5 separate regions of the Homo sapiens genome follow, and regions 1, 3, 4 and 5 are each reported to be linked to region 2. The links are microRNA targets in miRTarBase. Many come from high-throughput screens and were not tested one by one. Region 2 holds a microRNA gene; each other region holds the end of a gene's coding sequence.

The links. The annotated mature microRNA hsa-miR-193b-3p reads AACUGGCCCUCAAAGUCCCGCU and lies in region 2 at 1,536-1,557, shown strand. An mRNA with a match to its seed (bases 2 to 7 or 8) in the 3' UTR can be bound and repressed. Matches are read on the target gene's strand: a 7mer-m8 pairs with bases 2 to 8, a 7mer-A1 pairs with bases 2 to 7 and ends in A, and an 8mer does both.
Region 1: the mRNA of CMTR1 is a reported target of hsa-miR-193b-3p. The part of its 3' UTR that is shown has no 7-base or 8-base seed match.
Region 3: the mRNA of HEATR6 is a reported target of hsa-miR-193b-3p. The part of its 3' UTR that is shown has no 7-base or 8-base seed match.
Region 4: the mRNA of BTRC is a reported target of hsa-miR-193b-3p. Seed matches in the 3' UTR shown: 7mer-m8 at 499-505.
Region 5: miRTarBase lists AUNIP as a target of hsa-miR-193b-3p. The part of its 3' UTR that is shown has no 7-base or 8-base seed match.

What each region holds. Positions count from the first base shown.
Region 1 is chr6:37,479,281-37,484,382 of GRCh38, forward strand. CMTR1 (cap methyltransferase 1) reads left to right here. Exons shown (of 24, transcript NM_015050.3): 24 at 733-2,228. The coding sequence ends at 865. CCDC167 (coiled-coil domain containing 167) reads right to left here. Exons shown (of 4, transcript NM_138493.3): 4 at 3,658-4,009. The coding sequence ends at 3,906. Among named protein-coding and RNA genes, the nearest start is that of CCDC167, 18 kb to the right of the region's middle. RefSeq lists an enhancer at 1,203-1,903.
Region 2 is chr16:14,302,482-14,307,583 of GRCh38, forward strand. It overlaps MIR193B (microRNA 193b), which reads left to right and starts at 1,486; the gene lies at 1,486-1,568. All of the region lies in intron 1 of MIR193BHG (MIR193b-365a host gene), which reads left to right. RefSeq lists silencers at 1-33, 318-478, 384-623, 1,577-1,626 and enhancers at 3,989-4,674, 4,675-5,102.
Region 3 is chr17:60,039,322-60,044,423 of GRCh38, reverse strand. It overlaps HEATR6 (HEAT repeat containing 6), which reads left to right. Exons shown (of 20, transcript NM_022070.5): 20 at 290-3,416. The coding sequence ends at 861. It overlaps MIR4737 (microRNA 4737), which reads left to right and starts at 1,319; the gene lies at 1,319-1,399. RefSeq lists an enhancer at 4,262-4,556.
Region 4 is chr10:101,549,842-101,554,943 of GRCh38, reverse strand. BTRC (beta-transducin repeat containing E3 ubiquitin protein ligase) reads right to left here. Exons shown (of 15, transcript NM_033637.4): 14 at 4,053-4,245; 15 at 1-1,789. The coding sequence ends at 4,084. Among named protein-coding and RNA genes, the nearest start is that of POLL, 36 kb to the left of the region's middle.
Region 5 is chr1:25,830,913-25,836,014 of GRCh38, reverse strand. AUNIP (aurora kinase A and ninein interacting protein) reads left to right here. Exons shown (of 3, transcript NM_024037.3): 3 at 169-2,009. The coding sequence ends at 1,022. MTFR1L (mitochondrial fission regulator 1 like) reads right to left here. Exons shown (of 7, transcript NM_001099625.2): 7 at 3,077-4,094. The coding sequence ends at 3,989. Among named protein-coding and RNA genes, the nearest start is that of MTFR1L, 14 kb to the right of the region's middle.

The DNA of each region.
Region 1 (5,102 bases), not on the chromosome of region 2:
CCTCCTTAGCAGCCTCAAGTACTCCTGCAGGATGCCAGCCAGCTGTCTTGGGGGCACACCCTGGGTCCTGAGACTGTTGCCCATGCAGGGGTTCCCCTGAGCACAGGCCTGAGAATACTTGTGGGGATGGCAGCCCCCTGCAGGTGTGGCTGGACCTGGGTAGAGCTGGTGAGGGAAGCACGATGCCTGGACCTGCTAATGGTTACGGGCCTGGCTGTGAAGGCCCATCTGGGCAGCGTATCCACCCCATGGAGCAGCCACGTTTCGGTGACATTCCAACACTGGCCTGATGGTGGGAACCTGCTGAGGGCCCACAGCCCTGCCCCTTGGCACTCAAGGTCCCAGCTGTCCCTCATTAGGACCCGGTGTCCATTAGTCAGACTGTTGGTCATAGGCTTCCCCAGCAGCCCTAATGTGCCTGTAATTAGCCACTGACATTTTCTGTCACCACACTACTAATACTGTATATTAGAGAAGCACAGACAGATAAGTCAGGAATATCAGTCACTGTAGGAATCCAGTTGGATGCAATTAGCAGCAACAGCTGTTTGTTGGGAAAAGTTGGTTCTGGGAGGCAGGGGAGTTAGGGCCTACCGGGTACCTTTTGCCTGCCGGGGGAAGAACCTCAACTAAAGTCATTGACAGACCCCTCCGCCCCACACCCTTAAGAACACATGACCCTGTGCCATCTGGGTGCAGTCCTGACCTCTTTCCCATCCCTCTCCTCCCCAGCATTTGCTACTATGGCCGGCTCTTCTGGGAGTGGGGGGATGGCATTCGTGTGCATGACTCCCAGAAGCCCCAGGACCAGGACAAGCTGTCCAAGGAGGACGTCCTCTCCTTCATCCAGATGCACAGGGCCTAAGAGCCTCAGAATGTGCCACCCCTGCAGAATGCCCTGTCATTCCTGAGATGGGGCCACCTGGGGCCCACAGTGCTGGCTTCTTCCCCCTCTTGAAAAGGGACTGGGGAGCATTGCACCTGGCATGAGGAGTGGGTGGCCTCCTCTCCATCCCCTGAAGAGCTCAGGCAGGGCCCTGCAGAGAACACTCATGTTCCTTCTGGGACACCTGCCTGGGAACTTTCCCCTGCCAGGACTCAGCCTGAAGGAAGCTGCTCCTGAGGCAGGTATGAGGTCAGTGCCTAGGGCACGTGGGACTGATGGAGGACATATCAGAGTGGCAGAGCTGTGGGCTCTGCTGTTCTCTCCTGCATCCTGTAGACTCACTTTTCTGAGTTCCATGCACTGCCCTGAGGGTAGCCATGCCCTTGCTTTGCCCAACTTTTTATTGGGCCATCCCTGAGTGGGTGGAGACCTGCTGTCATGAGCTGGCCAGGAGAACCTGCTATAAAAAAATCAAGGTTTTGTTTCTTTGAACTTACTCTGTTTTGATGCCAAATTGGAGACCATTTTCTTGTCTCCTTCCCCCACTCATCCTGGCCTTCCCTGGAGTTCTTCCTAGCCCAGAGCTCTGACAGTCCAGCAGGGTGGGAAGGAGGGAGTTTGGGCAAACTCTCATCCCTGATACCACATTGAGATCCTGGGAGCCCTCTTTTCGTACTGAGTATGGAGTTGTAGAGCCATCCTAGGTGCCATCCCCTTTTGGTCCAAACATTGGGCAGCGCTAGATGGCAGGAAGCAGCCTTGAAGACCCGTCTTTCCCCCACAGCAGCAGGGGCCCCAGCAGTAACAAAGGGTACCTCCAGGGGTTTGGGTAGCGCTGCCCTCTGGCAGTCATGCACCGCTGTCTGCCATAGCCGCTCTAGGGTCTTGGCAGAATTCTGAGCTTGAAGTGCAGCTCCCTTACTACCCTTTCCCTTCCTTTTTCTTCCCTAATAGGAGGTACAATCTGCTTTTGTTTGTCGTTAAGTGGTCACTCCCATTTCCTTTATCTTGGCCGACAACACAGAGAGGAGGGGGAGCTGGGCAGTAGCTTGGGGTGGGGGTGGGCACCTGTGGTTGTTTTTAATGGGAAATACCTCTCAGAGATGTTCATGCAGGCTCCCTAGGGCCCCATCCCAGTGCCAGGCTGGTTTCCATGGAGATAGGGCACTGAGGCTCCCGTGAGGTTGGAATCGACTTCACCATGGGGGTCCTTCAGCCAGCATCCAGCTCCCCACCCCCAGGCTGGCAGTAGCACTGCTGAGATGCTGTATTTCCACCCAATTCTGGGTATATCAGTGTGTCTTGCAGAATCTTGGATCATTAAAGATAAACATATTTTTAATGCCTGTGTGGCTCTGTGTTGGGGCTGCTGCTGTTTGTCCTCAGTGCTTTGTGATCTGAGACTGGCTTGGATGAAACAGCTTGAGCCAGAGGTGAAGGGGAAGCAGCTCTACTCAAAGCAGAGGAGAGAAAAGAGGGTTTGTTTAATCGGAGCCTGTTCAAGCTCTTGGGCACCTGCAGGGCTCCCAGGGCTGCTGCTTGCTGCTCAAGAGGGGGCTCAAAGAAGAGTTGGGGGAAATTGTGCAGCTCCTGTTACAAGCAGGGACTGCAGAATGAATGAACCCACAGCCCCGGAAGGGCAGAGAGGCACCTTCCCCCCTTACATAAATCACACAGCTCACTCCATGGTGGCACTGTGACAATCCAGGATCAGTCTGTGTGACTAAAATAACAGAGGCGTCAGACCAATTAGTGTCACTAGACTTGGGCGAAAGAGGGAGGGAGAGATAGATGGTTTCACTGACCCTAGCCTGCCTCCCCTCCAAGGAGGGCTGGTTCTGCCTGCACGGGACTGTGCTTGGGGGTGGGGGATGCAGATGCTGCAGGCACCTCCCTCTCTGTTCCCGGCTGGTTTCTCCACCAGTTAGTCATCGCCCTGGTGCTGGTTGCCCCCCAAAGTCCGCCTTCACTTTGCTGGACTTCCTCACTTTGGCCCCAAGAGTCCTTTGTGTATGGCCTTAGTTCCCTGGGCAACCCCATCCCTTGTTTTTCCTACTTAACTGGTTTCATCTCGGCCATCCACGCCCTTCCTCTGTTCTGCCTTGCTGTAGCCTCCCACCTGCTCCCCTCCTTATTCCAAAGCTAGGAGTTTTAGAGTTGGGGGGTGGAAGGGTAAGGGAGATGTCTGAGTTTGCTGCTCCTGCCACAACTCCCCCTCTGATCAGCCCCACCCCTACTTCTCACTACAAACCCTACCTGATTTACTGGCCACTGTCACCGTAAGTCTGTCTGGTCATTACCATGACTCTTCCTGCCCACTCACAGCCTCCCCAGCCTTGCCTGCCTGTCGAAGATGGATTAACTCCGCACTCCCCTGGGATCGCCACATGACCACTTCAAGTCCCCAAGCCGCCCTTCGCTGCACAGACTGCATTTTTTTCTGCCATAATTACAAGCAATGGCACTGACTGGAGGGCATGACAGTGTGTGGTGGGGGGATGGACAGGTGGCACAATGTCTGCTGCTCAACCCCAGCAGTGCCCGAGCCCTGGAAGTAACTCCCACTATTTGGCTTGGAAAGTGCTTCCCACTGTCTCCTTCCCACTCGAGCTGGGGGCCTTCTCCTCTATTCTGAATTGTAATCCAGAGCTTTCCCTTGAACATCTCTTCTTCCTTGATTCCTGAGTGCCGCCTCTGCTGCTGCTGCCTCTTCCTGCCCCCACCGTCCACCCTCCGCTAGTCAGACCATGACATTTACTCAGCAGACGGGAACAGCTTTGTGTTCTTTATTGCCTCTCCCTTGGGCTAAGGGAGGGACCAGCACCATGTCCTTCTGGAGACCCGGAACCCCCCAGCAGGCCAGGGAGGCAAGGCCTGGGCCGCCAGGAAGCCATGCTTGAACACTAGGTTGGGAGGGGAACACCCCAGCACCTTGGTCCTATTGAGGCTTGAAGTGCCTGCTTGATCCTGATCAAGGGGCCAAGTGGAAGCCTGTGCTGGTTGTGGGGAAGTGCCAGGCTCACATGGTCCAGTAGGCATAGACGAGCGTCAGGAGGATAAAGATGGCCACAGAGAGCAGCATGTTCTTCCGGTTCTCTTGCCGAAGAAACTTCAGTTCCTTCTCTGGGAGGAAAGAGGGTGATAGGGATAGGACAGGCAGTTTAGGCCCGTCTGTTCTGCTCTGCCTCTCCAACGAGTGGGTACACACTGCTGAGGGCAAAGACGCACCCTTCCAGCCACCTCCTTACCCATAAAAATGACTCTGCCCTTCTTAATCTGCCCAAATCCTGACACCCTTTTGGCTATAGAGCCAGCCTGATAAAGTCCCAACGCCCAGTGCTGCTCAACTATGGCTCTTTAAATGTGGTTGAGGTTGAGGGTGAGGTGGGTGAGGAGTCACCAAAAATGCCACACCTGAAAGCCAAGCTAGGAGGTGGTGTGACCGCCAGGTGAGTCTGCTTGCCTGTCATGGGGTTGGCTGTGGTGCTCATCCTTCAAGGCATCTCATCCGCCAACCAGAAACTGAGGGCACCTGGGGCCTCCTTGGGCCTGACAGTGGAGGAGGTGCTAGGTGGGGCCACGTGTTTCCTGAGTCCCTGCCCTCTGCCGGGTGCCTGGTTGAGCAGAATCTAGGGACGCTAAGATGCAGTTTGTGTCCATGAGGCAGCTGGTCTTGACTCTAGAGGAAATCAGTCCTGCTGCTCTATGGCCACACTTGTATCAAAGTATCCCCTCCAGGTGACACGCAGGTAGGGGGTACTCTGTGAGGGCTAAATTGAGTGGTGGTGTGGTTTTGTGTGAAAACCGCTAAACTTGAAGGGAAACTAATGTCCCATCCCTGTCTGTGCTGGGCAGTGGGAAGAGACACCTGCAGAGCTGCTCTGGGCAGGCCAGACTGAGTCCAGGGCCCAGGGTGCACCGGCCCAGACATGCTGAACTCCAGGCAGGGCTGGTAGGTGTGCACTGTGCCTACGGCATTCATCAGACCAGCGCTTCTGGGGGACTCCTTGCCATTAGAACCTTCCTGGGGCTGATTCATGGCCAGGCCTGGTCCCCCAGGGGAGAACAGAACCGACAAGTCTGAGGAGCACCTATAGACCGTGGTCCTCCCCAGCCTTTAGCAGGGAGCCCACCAGCCTGCCAGCCGCCCTCTGGCGCCCCGCCGGGCCTGGCCTCTACCTGCCTCTGCCCCCAGCGCCCAGAAGGTGGCGGCATC
Region 2 (5,102 bases):
GGAAGGCGCAGCCCTGGGTGGGGGGGCCCGTGCACCCCCGGAGGCGGCAGCGGCGGTGAGTGCTCCCCTTCTTCCCGCCTGGCACCTTCCGCCAGCCAAGGCAGGGATCGCGGCAGGTGGGTGCCCAAGCCCCCAGGGCCGAAGGGGTGTGGGGCGGCTGTCTGCGGGGTGGATGGGAACGGGAGAGGGGAGGTGGCGGCGGGGGAGCGCGCGGTTCTCTCGGGACTCGGCGCGAGACGCTTGTCTGGGCTGCGATTGCCGCCGCTGCCGCCACCCCGGCTCCCCCTCGGACCCCTCCCCCGCTCCCCAGAGGGGCGTGTGAAGCCGGGAGGTAGGAAGGGGGCGAGGCCGCCCCCAGCCTCCCTAGTGCCTGGGCTTGGAAATTGACGAGGCGGTGGAGCGTCCGCGTCCCCGCCCCCACCCCGGAAAGCCCGCTCGGGAAACTGACTCGCTGCGTGACCCCGATCTCAATGCCGCGCGCGGAGCAGGCCGGCCGCGCCCGCCGCTCCACGTGCGCCCGAGCCCCGCTGGCATGGGCGGCGGCGCCTGCGGGGGCCGGGCCCCGGGGATCCCGGACTAGCCGGGAACCACCGTCCCCAGAGAGTTACCGCCGCCCCCTAAAGTTGTCAGCTCCCTCCCCCCGAGAAGCAGGCAGCCCTGGCGCGTTGGCTTTAGCTTCTGCAGGACGGGGGCAAAAAAACTAGGTTCCGGGGTGCGGAGCGGGGTGTCTGTGCCCGAGACAACACCAAGTTAGGAAAAAGAAGTTAGAAAAAAAAAGAAAAAGGCATTTTGATTTGGGGGTGGGGGGAGTGGCGTTTCTGGTTTCTCTTTGCTTCCAATCCCCACCAAGCGGAGCGTTGGAATGCGCCGCTTATGTCCTCTGAGGACACATCCATATTTATAATTTATTTTTAGGAGAAGTTGTGAAAAAGGGAGGGGGGTTAAAATGAGGAGAAAAGGTGCGTGGGGGAGTGGCCTTTCCAGAACCTAGAGGCTAATTAAGCTATTAAAATGGAAATCATTTCCCCCAACTTGGGCGCGCAGCAAATTTGACTTTAATGAGAGACGATTAAGGACACAAATAACCAAACTTTATTTAGCTGGAGATGGGGTGGGGGGAACTGTACGAGGCACCTCGGACACCCGATTTATCCGCTGCTAAGGGACGTTTGGGGCACCCCTCGTGTTGTCCGGGAAGCTTTTAGGCCTGTTTGCTGGGCGAGATTGGTGATTGCTCCGGGAGGGAAGAGACACCCCGGGATCAAGCGATCCTCTTGCCCTCAGCCATGGTGTGGCAAATGTCCCCTCCTCCCACAGCGACCCCCTGGCATTTTGGTGAGATGAACCGCCGCCCTGAGGGAACACCCAGTAACGATTCCTTCAGTGATCCCGGTTCTCCAAACTCTTGCCTCAAAGGCGGCCTGCCCCGGTGCTGTCAGCCGTGAATGGGGACTCACTTCTTGGGAAAAGAGGCTTTTGGAGGCTGTGGTCTCAGAATCGGGGTTTTGAGGGCGAGATGAGTTTATGTTTTATCCAACTGGCCCTCAAAGTCCCGCTTTTGGGGTCATTCTGGACAGCGAGGGACTCAGGCCCCGGCAGTCTCGGGAGGGTGAGGGCAGAGAGCTACCACCCCCAGGGAGCGCGTCCAAAACCCGGCTGGCGGGGGGGCGGGGAAAGAGGGGGAGGTTTGCTACTTTCCATAAAACTAAAAGGTCCCTTCGAGGGCGGTATTCTTATAAGTGTGTGTTCTCAGTTTGCCGAACCTACTGTGTTTTCCAAGGGCTTCTCTCCTTGGGAGGCCGAAAAACGATACAAGGAGGAGAAAGTACATTCCCCCTGACCACCCCCACAGTGGTTTAAGGGACAGTATTGGATTGGAAAGGAATTAGTAGGATGTCAATTGTGGCAAAGTGTTTGAAGCCCCCAAATAAGGCGCTCCTGAAATGATGAATTGTAACGACATTAGATTTGTCTTTACGTTTGCTAAATTAGGAGAAACCAGCTGTTTGCTTCCACCTGGAATTGCAACATTTCTTTGCAACTCTTTGCTGTTGAAGGCGTTCTTTTTGTTCTGTTTTGTTTTGTTTGTTTGTTTGTTTGTTTTTTGGGGACAGAATCTCGCTCTGTCCAGGCTCTGACCAGGCTGGAGTGCAGTGGCGCGATCTTGGCTCACTGCAACCTCTGCTTCCCGGGTTCAGGCGATTCTCCTGCCTCAGCCTCCCGAGTAGCTGGGATTACAGGCGCCCGCCACCACGCCCGGCTAATTTTTTTGTATTTTTAGTAGAGACGGGGTTTCACCGTGTTAGCCAGGATGGTCTCGATCTCCTGACCTCGTGATCCGCCCACCTCAGCCTCCCAAAGTGCTGGGATTACAGGCATGAGCCACTGCACCCAGCCAGGCGTTTTATAGAAGGCTGGATAATACGTTCAGGGGAAGTCTCTAAAGCAAGGGTAGTGTGTATAAATCCCCGTCGCAGAACATTAACCTTCAGTTGTGTGTACACACACACACACACACACCCTATATAGTTGTAACCTATATAGACTTTCACACATCCTAAGTTATTTGCAAGTCTAGATTTAAATTAAGTCTACATAGCAGGGAATAGAAAAGTGAGCTGTACCTGGAAAAAACCTTTGAACACAGCGTTCTTGATACAAGATTTAGGATTTGAAAGACATGGCACATGTACACACAGATGACATTTGTGCTGCCTTGGCAAAAACAGTTCTTTACTTCCAGAGTTCTTTCTCTTTAGTATGGGACACGATGAAACAGCACAATTTTCAGGAGTCCACAATTCCAGCGAGGCGCGTGGATGGGAAATTGTCACGTTGTGAATTGTGTTTGTGCTTTGCTAAATCGCCACCCGGAGCTGACTGTCAAATCCTATTTGCTTTGCTAAATAAGGATATCTCATCAAATTAGCCTTTAATGATACTTCTACAAATAGGGTGTTTTACATGAATTAACGAGGCCGGAACACTGACTGTTTCTCCAAGATACTGAGCTATAATGGAGGCGACGAAGCCGAATGTTAAAATTACTGAATTGTTAAGTGTGCAAAATCAGACAGAATTTAGTGCTAAATGTGAAACAATTTCTGCTTTAATGGTGAGCATTCGCAACAGCACAAGCATTACTTATATTCAGCCGTCTGAAACTGTGCATGTAATTATGAATACATTTAACAAACTTTAACCCCCCTCTGAGTCTGGAAACAGTCTAGTATGGTGAAGAGATTATAAATCAGCATTTTGCAGTGAGAAGTCATCATTAATTCAGCAAAGAATCACAGCTTCTTTTCAGATCCTTCCCACCACCCTCCTACACACCCCCCTCAACCAATAAGGAAAAAAAAAATTCAGCATGGAACTGCTGGATACACTGAATATATTTTGGCTTTTCTCTTTTTGCCTCTGTGTGAGAAACTTCATTAAGCAGTTGCTGTTCCCTCCCCACCCCCGCTAACCCCCAAAGAAGTGTGGATTTAAGAAAAAAAAAAACAAAAAACAAGCAACTTTGAATTTTGTTCTTAGCAATCCCCAAGCCATAGCTGATCTCAGAGAGGCAAAAAAGATGTTTCAATAGAAAAGAATACGGTATGGCCAGGAGTAAAATATTTAGAGGTGGTTCTGCAATGAATATGATACTTCCTTAAAAATAAAATATATGTTGGTGATTCAAACCAATGAAAGTTGGAAAAGTCCCTCCAAGGGAACACTCTCTCTGTTTCCCTTCCCAGCAACCCCCCAACTTAACGTTATGAACAGAAAGATGGAAATTCTTGCCAGATCAACTATAGCCTCCTAACGATCAGCTCACCCTCCTTTAATTTTGATTGTGGAGCAAATACAGCTATTTTAGCCATGAGGATAAAAATGAGTGCAGTGAAAAGTTAAGGCAAACTTGGTACTTAAAATCACTCACCAGAATAAAGTGCGTGTACAAACAAAACATTGCTGATCAGTTACTTTAAGCAGGCATTTTCTTTCTCGCCTGAGCACCCCAAACACAGAAAAATGTAGAGTTCTTTTTGCTTCTTGTATCTGGAGCAGGTGAAAATAAACCCTGACGCTCACAAACATGATATAAACAACATACTTTTCAGGCCTAGTAGCCAAGCCGACTTTTCAGGGAAAGAGATGGACGTTGAAAGAATTTAGGAGTGGACTTGGGGTTCCCTCCATCACCCCATGCCCAGCTGACCCCTTCTGCCCTTCTCATGACCTCTTTTCAAAGCAGCCAGTGTTCAGATGCTGCCTTTCCAGCGTCCCCAGTTGTAGGGGACATATGCACATATTTACCAAGCTTTAAAATAAGGTTTCTGATTTTATATCATCCGTCTGAGTTTACGGAACCACAAAGCAAACTTCTTTCTCCGTGTCCCTGAAATGCTGCCCCACTGCAGCAAAGGGGACTTCGCCTGGGCAGGGAGAGGAGTTAGTGGCTGGTTGCGCCTAAGGTTAGCTGTGCGGTGTGGTATGACAGTTTTCTCAGAGATGTGCAAAAATCTAGGCTCTCTTGCTGGAATCGTGTGAGATCAGTGCTGGGCCTGTTGGCATTGGCATTTGTGCCCAAGACAGCCCAGACCTCTGCCAGCCGAGGCCCAGATGTGGCCTCAGAGCCACTACTGGTGCCCAGACAAGTCCAGACAGGTGCCTGGGGGTCTTTCCTCCCGAGACGAAGCCTGCAGCAGTTCAGCCAGAAGATGGGGTATTTGGCTCTCAAAGTCAGCCTCCCCAGAGACTCTGCAGGGTTTAATAGCCTGGTGACCCTGTGGGCTCTGGCGAGGGCAGAACCCCACTTTGCTTTCCAAATGCTCAAAGGGGAACAGATGAGGCTATCCCACAGGCTCAGAGCAAATCTGTCCTGTGTGAGTGCAAACGTGGTTCTAGAAGATTCAGAGGCAAAGCTGAGCTTTTGCAGCCCAGCCCCAAGCCCTTGCTCTCGAGCACCAGGGCTGCGATCCTTCGACTTGGGGTGGGCCTAGGAGGCGTAGCTCCCAGCCAGCAAGACAACACATAACACATCTGAGTTACCGTGCATGTGTTTGCTGGTCTCTTCTCCAGCTCCGTGAGGCCTCCCACCTGGGAGCTGA
Region 3 (5,102 bases), not on the chromosome of region 2:
GAAGCCTTTTTCTGAGTCACCAAAGGCTTTATATTGGGTAGCAGAGGCTCTAAGCGTGTGGCAGGCTGAGGTAGGGAAAGAGGGAGGTTTGGGGATTGGCACCTGGCCACTTACCTAGGATCCTACAGTCAGTCACCACCCTTGTCTTACAGGATGATTGTGAGAATGAAGTGAACACATAAAATGAGTGTCTTGAGCACTAGTGTTTAAGCTTCCTTCCACCCCTCTCCCTCTCACCCCACCTAGTTCTAAGCCTGCATTTGTTTTAGTGACTGTGGATTCTTTCTAGGGACAGCCCCATGGACCTCCCAGGCCTACAATGCCCTGACATCGGTCGTGACATCATGCAAGAACTTCAAAGTGCGCATCAGATCTGCAGCTGCCCTTTCCGTCCCGGGGAAGAGAGAGCAGTACGGGTCTGTTGACCAGTATGCTCGGATCTGGAATGCATTGGTCACCGCTTTACAGAAGAGTGAAGACACCATAGACTTTTTGGAATTCAAGTACTGTGTCAGCCTACGGACCCAAATCTGCCAGGCACTGATTCACCTCTTGAGCTTGGCCAGTGCCTCGGACCTCCCTTGTATGAAAGAAACCCTTGAACTGAGTGGGAATATGGTCCAGTCCTATATTCTACAGTTTTTAAAATCAGGAGCAGAGGGAGATGACACTGGAGCACCCCACAGCCCACAGGAAAGAGACCAGATGGTCAGAATGGCCCTTAAACACATGGGCAGCATCCAGGCACCAACTGGAGACACAGCCAGAAGGGCCATCATGGGCTTTTTAGAAGAGATCCTGGCCGTTTGTTTTGACTCATCTGGATCACAAGGGGCACTCCCAGGGTTAACAAATCAGTGAAGATCCCACCATACTTTCTAGATGTCGAAGGCGGCAGTAGGAAGACCTGAGCTTGAGCATAAGATCTGTGGGATTTCATCTTAGGGGCAGAAACAATCCGTTCACTATTTATTTAGAATGACTTAGCAGCCATTTAAATTTTCACAGAGGGCTCAACCACCTTTGGAGTGACTCCATAGCACTGGCCATGGTCAGGGTTGTTGGAACATCTGACCTGTGCATCCAGGAGCCGAGGAGTCAGGTTGTAATACAGGCCAAGCAGACGGGCTTTGAGGGCATTTAGTCTCAGAAAAAAAAAATGTAGAAGGATTTCGGAATTAGAATTTTGTGTATTGTATCTGTAGTTTTGTAATAAACTAACGAAAAATAGTGTGTCCACAATCTCCTGTTGTTACCAAGTTGTATTTCTAGCAAGCTGCAAGCAGAGCTGCAGTTCAGCCAGTTTGTCCTGGCCCAGCTGCACAGGATGCGAGGATGCTGACAGTGCCTCACAGCCGCACAGGACCGAGGATGCTGACGGTGCCTCACAGCCACACAGGACGCGAGGATGCTGACGGTGCCTCACAGCCACACAGGACGCGAGGATGCTGACAGTGCCTCACAGCCACACAGGACGCGAGGATGCTGACGGTGCCTCACAGCCGCACAGGACCGAGGATGCTGACGGTGCCTCACAGCCACACAGGACGCGAGGATGCTGACGGTGCCTCACAGCCGCACAGGACCGAGGATGCTGACGGTGCCTCACAGCCACACAGGACGCGAGGATGCTGACGGTGCCTCACAGCCACACAGGACGCGAGGATGCTGACGGTGCCTCACAGCCGCACAGGACGCGAGGATGCTGACGGTGCCTCACAGCCACACAGGACGCGAGGATGCTGACAGTGCCTCACAGCCGCACAGGACGCGAGGATGCTGACAGTGCCTCACAGCCGCACAGGACGCGAGGATGCTGACAGTGCCTCACAGCCGCACAGGACGCGAGGATGCTGACGGTGCCTCACAGCCGCACAGGACGCGAGGATGCTGACAGTGCCTCACAGCCGCACAGGACGCGAGGATGCTGACAGTGCCTCACAGCCGCACAGGACGCGAGGATGCTGACAGTGCCTCACAGCCGCACAGGACGCGAGGATGCTGACAGTGCCTCACAGCCGCACAGGACGCGAGGATGCTGACAGTGCCTCACAGCCACACAGGACGCAAGGATGCTGACGGTGCCTCACAGCTGATGAGCTGCTGCTCCGAGCTTCTGGAGTGCCCGTGTTCCCCTGACCACCTTCCCTGCCACACCTCCCCACAATCCAATAACCAGAGTTAACTCCCAGCAAGCAGGGCCTTCTAACCTAGGCTACAACATTGACTTCTACCTACATTTCCTGATGCTCTTTAGGAGAATGTGATCCCACACACTAAATATATGGTTGTTTTGCCACCTTTTAATTTGTGCCTTTAAGAAAAGATCATTTGGTTAGTTGGTTACAAAGAGGGGTTTCCAATTATATTTTGATAATGCCCCACAAGTTATGAAGGTAACTTCTACTGAATATATATATTTAAATTTTGCATTTTTCTACTGAGCACCAACGATTTATTGGAATTGATTTCAATTAGGAATTTAGGGATATATAAGAACCAATTACAGTTGTCCATACTTATCTTTGATGTGGGACAATTAAGAAGTTACAAAAAATGGGTGTTGGTGATATTTTATCATGGTTATTTAGCTTAAAATACACGTGTAAAGGCAGGTGTCTTCCATTTTTCTCCTTTGCCTTTTAGCTGCTGTTTTCCTGCCTCTGACATGTTGGCTGCTCAGAAACTGCTCTCTGGGCAGTGATTGGGGAACAGGGTATTCAAGTTCACTAAAGGCTCAATTTTCCATTGATAGAATATCAGTGTCCACAGAATTAAGACTGCAAGCACAGCAAAGACACCCATATTGAATGTTCCCTTAAATTGCTTTTATTTGGAGACAATTCTGAACATGAAGTGTTATAGAGGGCCCAGGAAACTAAGTTGAGCCCACCTGACCCTGTGATGAATCTTGGAACTTCCGTCTCTTGAATACATTCTTAGTAGTAGCTTCTTGGCATTTTCAAAAAAGGAAAAAAAAAATATGGCATAGACAGCTTATTACTGTGATTCTTTGAGTTTTCTCAGGTGAGTTTTTTGATAAAATATTTGTGAAGTGGCCTCATGGTTTCATTTGATGATTCACTCTTATCCTTTCCTTATCTTGAATAAAATCCCATTCATTTTCTTTTTAAAACTTCAGCTTCTGTAAAGGTTTCCAGATCCTGATGTGGATGTTAATGTTCATGTGCAGGAAAACAATGAAGGCATAGCACCTCTAGAAACTTCAGAAGGCAGTGGTACCTGCTGTGTCCCAACAGTATGCTGATTCTCTTCTCTGCAGCATTGTGGGTGTACATACACTAAAGGACAGAAGCTCCTCATATGCCTGGGCACGTGCCTCCATAAAGCTGCTGTGGGGAAAGGAAGCCACTGACAATAAAGACAACTTAAGCTGATGAAAATCAGCACACAGCTCCACTGGTTCAGATTTCTAATGCAGAATGCCAGATTCTAAATTATCTTTTGACACTTAAAAATTGGGAGGAAGAGTCATCCAGGCACAGATGGCTAGGGCCCTTGTCCATTAGACTACAGCATTATGAGACGTTGCTTATCTTACTCTTTGAACCTTTTCTGTGACGAGTAAAAAACAAACAAACAAACAAAACATTAATTCCTATCCCCTTCCAGAACTCAAGAAAAGCGCCTCTTCTGAGGTTGGGTGCCATGGCTCATATCTGTAATCCCAATAGGCCAAGGCGGGAGGATCACTTGAGCCCTAGGAATTCTAGACCAACCTGGGCAATATAGGGAGACGGTCTCTACAAAAAAAAAAAAATTAAAAATTAGCTGGGTGTGGAAGTGCGCACCTATAGTCCCAGCTACTCAGGAGGCTGAGGTGGAGGATTGCTTGAGCTCTGGAGGTCAAGGCTGCAGTGAGCTGTGATCGCACCACTGCACTCCAGCCAGGGCAACAGAGTAAGACCTTCTCTCTAAACAACAAAAAAGGAAACCTCCTATGGAGCACCAATGCAAAGGTGTCCTTGATTTTGGTATTTGTGCTTGAATACAGACCATGAGCAAAAGCCTCACCATCTTTCCAGCATAAGAGCTAAGTAAATCAAATACTCTGGTTCATTCAGCCTTTGCTGCATTGATGTAGTGCAGTGGTTAAGAGCTTGGGCTTAAATCCTGGCTGTGCAGCTTTCTACCTGTGAAAGTTGCTTAACCCTTCTGTGCCTTATTTTATTCATCTGTAAAATGGGGATAAAAGTGCCTATTTCATAAGGATATTATAATGACTAAAATAGATAATACATAGAAAGTTCTTAGAACAGCTTCTGGCATTCAATAAATGTCAGGTATTTATTTCCTTGAATTTTCAGAGCAGCAGGCAGAAATACTGTCAACACATCATGAGCCTTTGTGATGGCAGTTAAACAGCTGGAATCTTGTAGGTCAGGTGCTAGCTGGCATGCCTCGGGAACCTGGATCAGAAAGATAAGCAGTGAGGAAGAGGCGCTGCTGCAGGACCTCTCTATCCTACTAGGAACAGCCCTCTGTCTAGCCCCCATGGGTCCCTCCCAGGAAAGAGAAGGGACTAGAAGTGGGAGAGGCCACACAAACTGAACAGGGAAGTAGGGGAGTAGGTCTTGGTTCTGCCTCATGACCCATCTCTGCGAGCCAGTCTTCAGGAATCACATCTCCAGCTTGCACACGCTCAGGAATTACTCCTGGTTTTAAAGGGCAACTCCTCTACTTAATGACTACACCCTTGGGCAGTCACTTGACCACTTATCTGTAAAGGGATACCAGTATCTCACACAGTTGTTCAGGAGTAGCTCCCATAATGTAAAGCACCTGGCTCGGAGCCTGGCATAGAGAGAGGGGCTCAGTGACAGATGGTGCCTCTTGTTACACTTTTCCTAGGTCTTCTCCCGGGGCTAGCATTTCTCTGCTTCTCATTGGAGTAAGATCCCTAGAGTGGGATATTGGAGAATGTCTGTCTGGTTCTAGTACACACCTTGAGTCCTCAAGCCTAGGCTGAAGGCATCCTCAGCTCCAGGAACATGGACATTATATTAGGGGTGGGGCCAAAGTCTTGGAAAATGAGCACTCATTCAATTACCATTTCCTTCCAACACACCCGAGCACCACAA
Region 4 (5,102 bases), not on the chromosome of region 2:
AGCAGGAAAGGTAGAATGCATATGCATAAAATGACTCTCAATATGTAGTAACAACATTCAGTGGGTACACCTTGGGAAGAGGATACCTTCTTGCCTGGGGAGACCAGCTGGGTGCACATTAATAGTATTCTGTGTGCTCCCAGGTTGGTGTGGCACAGGTACCCTTGCACCTGAAGCCCACTAGCTTGGCAGCTCACACAGCTGCCTTCCGAGTGACTGGGTTTGCCTGACCCTTGCTGAGGTCCAGCTGTTTATGCTGTTCACCAATCGCCACAGACGCTTTATTGGCTGGGGAGAGTGAAGAGCAAAATAAGGTCAGGAGGAGGAAGAAAAGGCAGTTTTTGCCCCATTAATAAACCCTGTGTGCCAAACTTCACCCTGATCCTCTCTCTTAAGCAGCTTTGCCCTTCTGCAAATACTGGGTGTGGGAGAAGCAGAAGGAAGGTTGTGCAGTGCAAGGTTGACACGGTGAGATCAATATTTGAGAGATGATATTTAACTGGCCAAAACAAAACAAAACAACAAAAAAAACAAAAACAGTGTTTTCTCCTGACCATCTCTCTTAAGCTACCTTGATCACGGTCTTGGCAAAGATACAGGCACCTGGGTATTCACAGGCCCTGATGAGGAAATCGGAGATGGAAACCATTACGCAGAATGCACCAAGCGATTGGCTCTGGCCATTTCAAATCTTTCTGTAGGCTGAGCCTTACCAGTGATTTAAGATGAAGTACAATGCTTTTTATTACACACCCAATTGTTAATGAGAGGAAATGCAATCAGCAACTCCTTTCCACACTCTACATGGAATCAAGGAGACTGCTGAGTCCAGAAAAGATGCAGCCATTGATGGAGCCCAGGAAACTTCTCCCCACCCCCTCTGCCTGCCCCCTACCACCAATCCTCCTCTTGGGTGTGGGGAAGAAAGAGAGAGAAGAGTTGCAAATATGATGAGAGTATCATGTCTGAGAATCCACTGTTGCCACAGGGTCACTTGCAGCAAAGGCCTGGGGCTGAAATCTTCACTGAACAGCATTTAACTCTTCCAAGTGTTGCATTTTCTGGCTGATCTGGCTCATGTGAGAGGAGGACACTCTCTTCGTACACTTTCTTCTCAGGTGAAGCAGACAGAGAAAAAAGGTTGAAGGGGCGTAGGGGAGTAGATGGGAAGAGGAACAGAAACAAAGAGAAGGCAGGCAGGAGGCCCAAATCTTCCAGTGTATACATTCTTGTGTTTTCTTTTTCTTGTCCCAGAGGCTATACAGAGGGAACTCTGTCTCCTCCTAAGCATATTGGGGCTGGGCTGCTCTGGCCAGGTGCTTGGCATTCCTGCAGTTAACAGGGAGACACTGGGCACTGGGCTTGAAGCTGCATCCCCCATACCCTAGAAGTGGGTCTCTCCCAGCAGGCTATACAGGGAAACTAGTTCTTCTGCTTAATGGCAAAGCAAGAGAGATTCTGGCAAAACACTAAATATATTTATAAGTCACCTTTGTCTGGAACCAATGGGAAAAAACTAGGTGCAGAGGTGAAAGGAGGAGAGGAGGGGAGGTTTAAAAGTTCCAATCATTCACAAAAGATAGAAGACATCTTCTGATAGCAGCACTGAAGCAGTCAGTTGTGCTGAGTAGACCGTCCTGGGCCGACTGCAGACCAACTGTGTCCCAACAGGAGTCTCAAAGCCCTGCTCCTCGGCTAGTCCAGGGAAACTGGGCAGTAGTTTGATTGTTACTGTTGTTGCTCATCCTGGTATTGGCAGATACGTTAAATACCGCAACTTTAATGGGTCCTGTGTGAAAACAGAGCAAATAGTCATTAGCCCCTTTTTTGATATTTCTTACTTGCTTGAAGACAAAAGAACATTCACTTAGCTGCCAATGGGGAAAAGGCTTAGGGGTCCTTCCTAATGCCTGCTCTCTGCCTATGCCATGCAGGAGCTTCTGTCAAAGGTGACCTGGCCTGATGGGGGAAGTTATACTAAAGGCAGGGCTTGCTGACATGCTCAGGGCTGTGGTGTTCAAGCAGAGTGACTCTGATGTCTTGAGGCTGAGAGTGCCCACGGTTGGCATAGCTTTCACTTGCCCTGTAGAATGGCAGGGCAGGGGTGGGGGATGGTCTGTGGGCCCTGCCTTTTGAGTGGCCATGAGCATGGCGGTGCCAGTAACAGAAGTGGGGGAATCAAGGAAAGCTGGCCTGGCTGTGTGGCTGCAGGGTACCAGCAGTGTAAAGGAGGGGACAGTGCAGTTGAGGATGTGAGCACTAGAAGTGCTCTTGCTATCTTCAAGGACAGCTGTGTGGATGGCAGCTGGAAATGTGGCCTGGAGATTAAGGCAGAGGCTTGGACTGGAGACAGAAATTTGAGTCTTCTACAATGAGATGAGATCTGAAGCCTTGGGAATAGAGAAGGCAGCCTAAGAAGGAACTCAGATAAGGAAGAAAAGCCAGAGACAGGCCGGGTGCGGTGGCTCACACCTGTAATCCCAGTAACTTTGGGAGGCCAAGGGAGGTGGATCACTTGAGCTCAGGAGTTCGAGACCAGCCTGGGCAACATGGTGAAACTCCATCTCTCCAAAAAAAAAAAAAAAATACAAACAATTAGCTGGTCATGGTGTTGTGTGCCCGCGGTACTCAGGAGGCTGAGGCAGGAGAATCACTTGAGCCCAGGAGGTGGAGGTTGCAATGAGCTGACATTGTGCCACTGCACTCCAGCTTGGGTGACAGGAGTGAAGCCCTGTTTCAAGAAATAAAATAAAATAAAATAAAATGAAATAAAATAAAATAAAATAAAAATAATAAGAAAAGCCAGAAACAGACTCTTGGGAGTGAGGGGGAAAGAAGCACAAATAATCAGAGAGTCAGGAAGAATATTAAAAATGGCAAAGTAACACGGAAGTCTAAGGAAGAGAAAATTTTGGGCAAAGGAGGGGGTAGGTATATGGAGATTGCAATATTAATACTCATGACCAGTTTTTCCTGAGGGCATATTATGTATTCGCCACTGTGCTAAGCACTAGGAATTTTCCATGCAGTATCTCCACACAGCCTTCACAGGGTTCCGTGAGGTGAGTGCTGCCCCTCACGTTACTCATCAAGAGATTCAGGGTCTGGGAAGTTACTTGTCTAAGGGCACACAGCCTGTGCGACCTGGCTGAGGAACGACGAACCGTGTCCTCTGTGAGAGAAAGAGAAGCTGAGGACAGCCCAGCTGGGCGTGAATCACTGTCCTCAGCGGAACACTGCAAAGAGAGATGCAGAAACGTGTAGCGAACATGTACTTCCGCCACGAGAACTGAGGCACACGTGGCAAATCCTGACAGCAACGCTCCTCAGCAGCTAGGGCAGCCTTCTCAAACTGGTAACAACCTAGTGTATTCGAACTGGTTAGAACAGCAGGTATGATCTGAATATACCACAATATGTATGGACCACCTGGGTATTTTAGGATCTTCCCCTGCCTGAGAGAGAGGTTGGAGACTTGAGTGGGAGGACATGTGGAGGTCAGAGGTCAAAAGACAGGTCCTCTTTTTGGAGGGTTGAGGAATAGGGATAGGGATATAAAAGCTACTTTTTATATTCCTTTTAAAATCTGCCCTTTTATTTATATGTCAGTGTGAACTTTCACCAAGAGATGTTTCCATTCACACATTAGACATCAGACTGTTTACTTGGCTTGAAAGGTCTCTATTGTAGGTATTGTTTGATCTGGGAACTTAAACATCACAGGCCTTTGGGTCATTACAGTACTTAGTTTTCAAACTGATTCAAATCTCATTTTATTTTCATAACAGTACTACTAGATAACTAGGGCAGGAATGACTAGGCTTACCACACAAGTAGGACCCTAGAATCATCTAGAACTGAGGCTGGCTACCTTGGTGAAAGGCACTGTCCACACTGTGGCAGCTTCAGCCCTGTCTCACATTGTCTGCTTCCTCGGCTTTACAGGAGTTGGTGACCCAAACGGCAGGAGAAAGTTCCATGAACTAGCAACACCTTACAGCTAATATCCCGTCTCCTACCCACAGTGTTATGTACATAATCGATTTCGATACCTGGGCAAGTATGAGGTCAGTGTATGGTTATTTATCTGGAGATGTAGGTGTATGTTCGAGAAGGGGAACGGGGGGGTTCAGCTTGGGCAGCTGGATCATTTAGGAAGTCCCAGATGAGGATTGTGTCATCATGTGAACTACTGACAATCTGGAATTCATCAAACTGTAGTCGAAAAACTCTTCCGGAATGCTCCTAAAGAAGTAGAAACAAAAAGGGTAGGAACTTGAACTACTCAAAATCAATAGGACACAAATTCAGCAACATGTCAAAAGGAGTCTACGGAAAGGCTATGGTTTGCTGTTATAAAGAGGCCAGGCGCAGTGGCTCACACCTGTAATCCCAGCACTTTGGGAGCCTGAGGCATGCGGATCACGAGGTCAGGAGATCGAGACCATCCTGGCTAACACAGTGAAACCCCATCTCTATAAAAATACAAAAAGTTAGCCGGGCTGGTGGCATGTGCCTATAGTCCCAGCTACTTGGGAGGCTGAGGCAGAAGAATTGCTTGAACCTGGGAGGTGGAGGTTGCAGTGAGCCGAGATCACTCCACTGCACTCCAGCCTGGGCAACAGAGTGAGACTCTGTCTAAAAAAAAAATAAAATAAAAATAAATAAATTAAAAAAATAGAGAAAATTTACTTTGGCTAAAGGCAGCATGGAAAAGTCAAATACTAGGCAGCTGTAAACAAAGCAATACTCTTTGGCCAAGACATGCTAAATAGCATGCTATTAATAGTTTCTCATGGCCAACCCTTTTTGGCGTAGGGTGGATGAGAGCATTCCTTACTACCTCCCTGGTTTTTATCTTCTAAGTTCCTTCTACAATCAGAGGTCAAGGATTGGTGAGCAATAAGAAGCAGTATGCTGATAAATGTTTATCAACCAAACTTTGCTACTTTGTAAAACCATCGGTAGATTTCCACGGCATTAAAAACTCCTATCATGGCCAATTATAAGCTAGTCATAGTCAACCAGCTGGCAAAATTCATGAATATCTAATAGTTGGCTCTCATAAGTGAGTATGAGCCTGTTCTAGCACACCACTGGCA
Region 5 (5,102 bases), not on the chromosome of region 2:
CTGGCAAGATTGAAAACAGGAAGATTGGCTACAAAGTTATGTGAAGAGTCTTAAGACTCCTGCACTAGGTAGTAATAGTAGCTGATACTGATTTCAGAAAAAGCCAACTGAATCCTGCTTAGGGCAGTTTTTCTGCAGAATAATATTTGTTCATTCCTGTTTTATTAGGAAAGACAAATGGCAGTGACCAGAAGAGTGTTTCATCTCATACAGAAAGTCAGATCAACAAAGAGTCCAAGAAAAATGCGACCCAGCTAGACCATTTGATCCCAGGCTTAGCACACGATTGCATGGCATCCCCTTTAGCCACTTCAACCACTGCAGACATCCAGGAAGCTGGACTCTCTCCTCAGTCCCTCCAGACTTCTGGCCACCACAGAATGAAAACCCCATTTTCAACTGAGCTATCTTTGCTCCAGCCTGATACTCCAGACTGTGCTGGAGATAGTCATACCCCACTGGCTTTTTCCTTCACCGAGGACTTGGAAAGTTCTTGTTTGCTAGACCGAAAGGAAGAAAAAGGGGATTCTGCCAGGAAATGGGAATGGCTTCATGAGTCTAAGAAGAACTATCAGAGTATGGAGAAACACACCAAACTACCTGGGGACAAATGCTGTCAGCCCTTAGGCAAGACTAAATTGGAAAGAAAGGTGTCTGCCAAAGAAAACAGGCAGGCCCCTGTCCTCCTTCAAACATACAGGGAATCCTGGAATGGAGAAAACATAGAATCAGTGAAACAAAGCCGTAGTCCAGTTTCTGTGTTTTCCTGGGACAATGAAAAGAATGACAAGGACTCCTGGAGTCAACTTTTCACTGAAGATTCTCAAGGCCAGCGGGTCATTGCCCACAACACTAGAGCTCCTTTTCAAGATGTAACCAATAACTGGAATTGGGACTTAGGGCCGTTTCCTAACAGTCCTTGGGCTCAGTGCCAGGAGGATGGGCCAACTCAAAATCTGAAGCCTGATTTGCTCTTTACCCAGGACTCTGAAGGTAATCAAGTTATCAGACACCAATTCTAAATGTTTGAAGCTTTGTTTCTAAAAGTACCTTGAAATGATAGAGATGTAGGAAAATATAGTTGTGGGTGGAGAGAGGAGTGAGTTTGTTTAGGTGGGAAGGTGGCATGGGATGAAGTTGTCATTACTGAGCATCTTCTCTGTGTAAATAAAGGGCAGTACCATTGTTAAGACAGTGGGATTGGCATCATGGCTTTCCCTCAGGAAGGTGGTGGCTGGTAAATTCCCTGAATGAGTCTATGATGAACACTGAGGCAGCACAGTGGGTATTTATCTCTATGAAAGTGCCTTTTACTCAGCCTGCACAGAGCCATCTCTTTGCCCTTCCAGATGTCTGACTGGGACCTTGCTTATGGATGTGTTTTTTTTTTTTTTTTTTTGAGATGGAGTCTCGCTCTGTTGCCAGGCTGGAGTGCAGTGGTGCGACCTCAGCTCACTGCACCCTCTGTCTCCCGGATTCAAGCGATTCTCCTGCCTCAGCCTCCCGAATAGCAGGGACTACAGGCATGCGCCACCACGCCCAGCTAATTTTTTTTGGATTTTTAGTAGAGACGAGGTTTCACCATATTAGCCAGGATGGTCTCCATCTCCTGACCTCCTGATCCGCCCACCTCAGCCTCCCAAAGTGCTGAGATTACAGGCATAAGCCACCGCGCCCAGCCAGATGTGTGAGCTTTTAATCTCTGGCTGATCTTAACCCACATCAGCCTAAGCTTGGGATGATTACTCTTGACCCTTTTTTTTCAGTGATTAGCAAATCTCCCCACAACCCAGGTGTGGAGAGAAGAGAGGTAGAATGGTGCTAGTTTCCTATTTTATTTTTGTGGTAACTGTACAGCACTTTAAAGTTATATACTCTATGTTTAAATATCTCCCTTAAAAAGCCTGAGCTGTACAACAATCTGGATGTGACTCTGTTACCCTTTTCCCACAAGATAGGAGGGAATCCCCTTTGTAAAACTATGAATCCAAATAAATGTTTACAAAGTGGCTCTTGTGATAATTGGTAATTAAACCATTACCAATTTTATTTTTGAAAAGGCAACACTGTAATAGTATATGCTGTCATTGCCCTGAGCCTGATCTGAACCAGAGTCTAGTTTGACCTGTCTTCTACCCAAGGCATTATTCCTTGTTGTTGATGTGGTATCTAAGAGGCTTAAACAACCTCTAAGGGACAAACTTGCAAGGTTATAAGAGAACTGCTTCTTTTTTTTTTTTTAACTTAAATTTTATTTTTTTGAGACACGGTCTCGCTCTCTTGCCCAGGCTGGAGTGTGGTGGCATGAACACGGTTCACTGCAGCCTGGACCTCCTGGGCGCAAGTGATTCTCCCACCTCAGCCTCCCGAGTAGCTGAACTATAGGCACATGCCACCATGCCCAGCTAATTATTTTTAAAATATTTTGTAGAGATGAGGTCTTGCTTTGTTGCCCAGGCTGATCTTGAACTCCCAAAGTGCTGTGATTAGAGGTGTGAGCCACTGTGCCTGGCCTAATTTAAATGTTAAATTCTACTTTTATCGTGTATGTCATCTCTCCAGTCATTTTCCTGGAAGACCTGCTTTTAAGAATGTATGGGGCTTAGTGCGGTGGCTCATGTCTGTAATCTCAACGCTCTGGGAGGCTGAGGTGGGAGGTTTGCTTGAGACCAGGAGTTTAAGACCAGCCTGGGCAACATAGCAAGACCCCATCGCTACAAAAAAATTTAAAAATTTCCTGGGTGTGGTGGTGCATACCTGTAGTCCCAGCTACTCAGGAGGCTAAGGTGGGAGGCTCACTTGAGCCCAGGAGTTTGGAGGCTGCAGTTAGCTAATGATCCCACCACTGCACTCCGGCATGACAGAGCTAGATACTGTTTCTAAAAAAAAGAAAAAGAGTATAGGGCAAAATCTCTACAGAAAGGGGGAAGAAACCCCCTAGAAGGGCAGGACCTTATAAGGAAAGAGGAGAAGCCAGTAGCCTGTTTAAGTTCATACACCTTAAAATTAACAATAATCCTATGCCCCTGAAGGATACTGGGTAATCGCAACTCAAGAGATGGACACAGCAAATGCATTCTCTCTCCAAGTCCTTCCTTTAATGTCAGGTAGTGCTTCAACCCAAACACAAGCAGTATACATACCATAGAGAAAGGGACCTGAGGGCATCTGAGTCATGCATGGTGTGGTACATACAAACCTTGGCCCAGCCCAAAGGAGCAGTCAAGGGCCTGGAAGAAAGATGGTTTGCTCTTTCCCCCTCCTCCTCTCTCTTTCCTACCGGGCTTAAAGTCCGTGGAAGAGAAAGTTTTTAATCAGTGGAACTGATAAGGCCTCAGGGCCGTGGAGGGTAGATTTGGTTGTTCAGTAATATAAAATGTGTTTAAGAAAAAAAACAGCCCAGGCTTCCCAGCAGTAGCCCATGTGTTGGCTGGTTCAGCAGCCTGACCTCTACATCTAGACAAGGAAGTGAGGAGGGTGATTGCTGGGCATTGGTGTAGGTTTATGACGGAGCAGCATAAGATTTTCCGTGCCCTGTGAACATGTATACAAACATTCATAGCCCCTTCCCCTCAGCCCTGCTCTGCTGCAAGGAAGCTGCTGAGTGAGTGACAGCTGGGCACAAAGTGTCTTGTGAGACCAGCTATAGGGTCTAATGCAGTGAAGTCAGTCATTTAGGACCTATTTTCACACAGGGGCAAGGAAAAACCAGAAACAACTTCTCTCTTACCCTTTAAACTAAGATACTTCATTCTACACGATTACCTGAAACAAATGTCTCAGGTCAAATCACAAGCCTTAGCTTCTGCTAGGGTTTGAAGTCTGGGAAATATATAATCCAGCTCTTCTCTTTCAGTCCAAGCTCTAGCTTGTCAGCAAGACTGTTGCAGAAGATCTATCCTTAAGAGGCAGAAACATCTGCGGTGAGGAAGGCAGCTATTGAAGGTATTCCAGGAGCATGAGACTGAGTTTGCAGAGCTGAGGGTTGTCAATTTCCTTTTCTACTGATATCTTCTTCCTTTAGAGCAAACTTCCTCCTTAGGACCTCAGAGATAAGCACAGCAGGGTCTTCCTCCTTCAATAAACTCCGGTTCCTAGAGACACAATAATAGCTTGAGTACTTACTCTTTCCTGTGTAGTGCTGTATATCTTTTGAATACATTATCTCGTTGAATCCTCACAACAATCTTACGAGGTAGGTGCCATTACAATTCCCTTTCACAGATAAGGAAATTGAAGCACAGAAAGGTTATACAAGTTGCCCAAGGTCACTAGTCACTCAGCAAGTAAGCGGTGAATCCAGAGTTCAGAACCAAACTAGCTGGTTCCAGATCTCATCTATTAACTAGAATGCTTTACTATTTCCTGAAATAGCTATAAAGTATGGGCAAAGTAAAGGACCATCAGTCTGTTAGAGTTGGCCTCTGGTGGCTAAGCTTCTGCCTTCTGGCCCTGTTTTCTTAGTAGCATTTCCCCAGAGGGTCAGCAGGGGAAGTGACTGATGACTCTTGGCTATTCTGACCCTTGATAGTTCTGGAGAAAAGGTGTGCTTGGGATTTCCTACCACCGGGTCTCCCCTTCAGGGGAGATGATTTTTTATGAGAGCCAGAATTAGAGCAAAACATTCACATAAGAAACTCATGGGAACAAAACCAACTCCAGACTGAAGTAGGCCCAAGTTATCTGATACATCATATAAGAGGGTCCTAGATACCTGGAAAATAGTTGCTTGAAATCCTAGTGAACTTATATACATTCATCATGAAGGTGTTTTACTGGTGATTAAGCTAAATATAAGAGCCAAGACTGACTATTCAACCTTCAAAGCAAAAACAAGAGGGACTGCGTTTGGTTGGTGACATATCTGAACCTTTGCTGACTGGGGTACTTTCCCATTCTTATTCACTGACCCAGCTCCTTCTGATCTGAGGACACAAGTGGGAGGAGGGGGCTAGCAATAAGGGTCTTGAATCTAATTTGGTCCAAAAGGCAAGTAAGAGAAAGTTTGAGAGTCAACCTATAAAACATTTTGTTCAGAAGAAGACAGCTCAGAGAAGACCAAAAACAGCAGCAACTGAATTTGGGAATGTGGAAGACCAAAG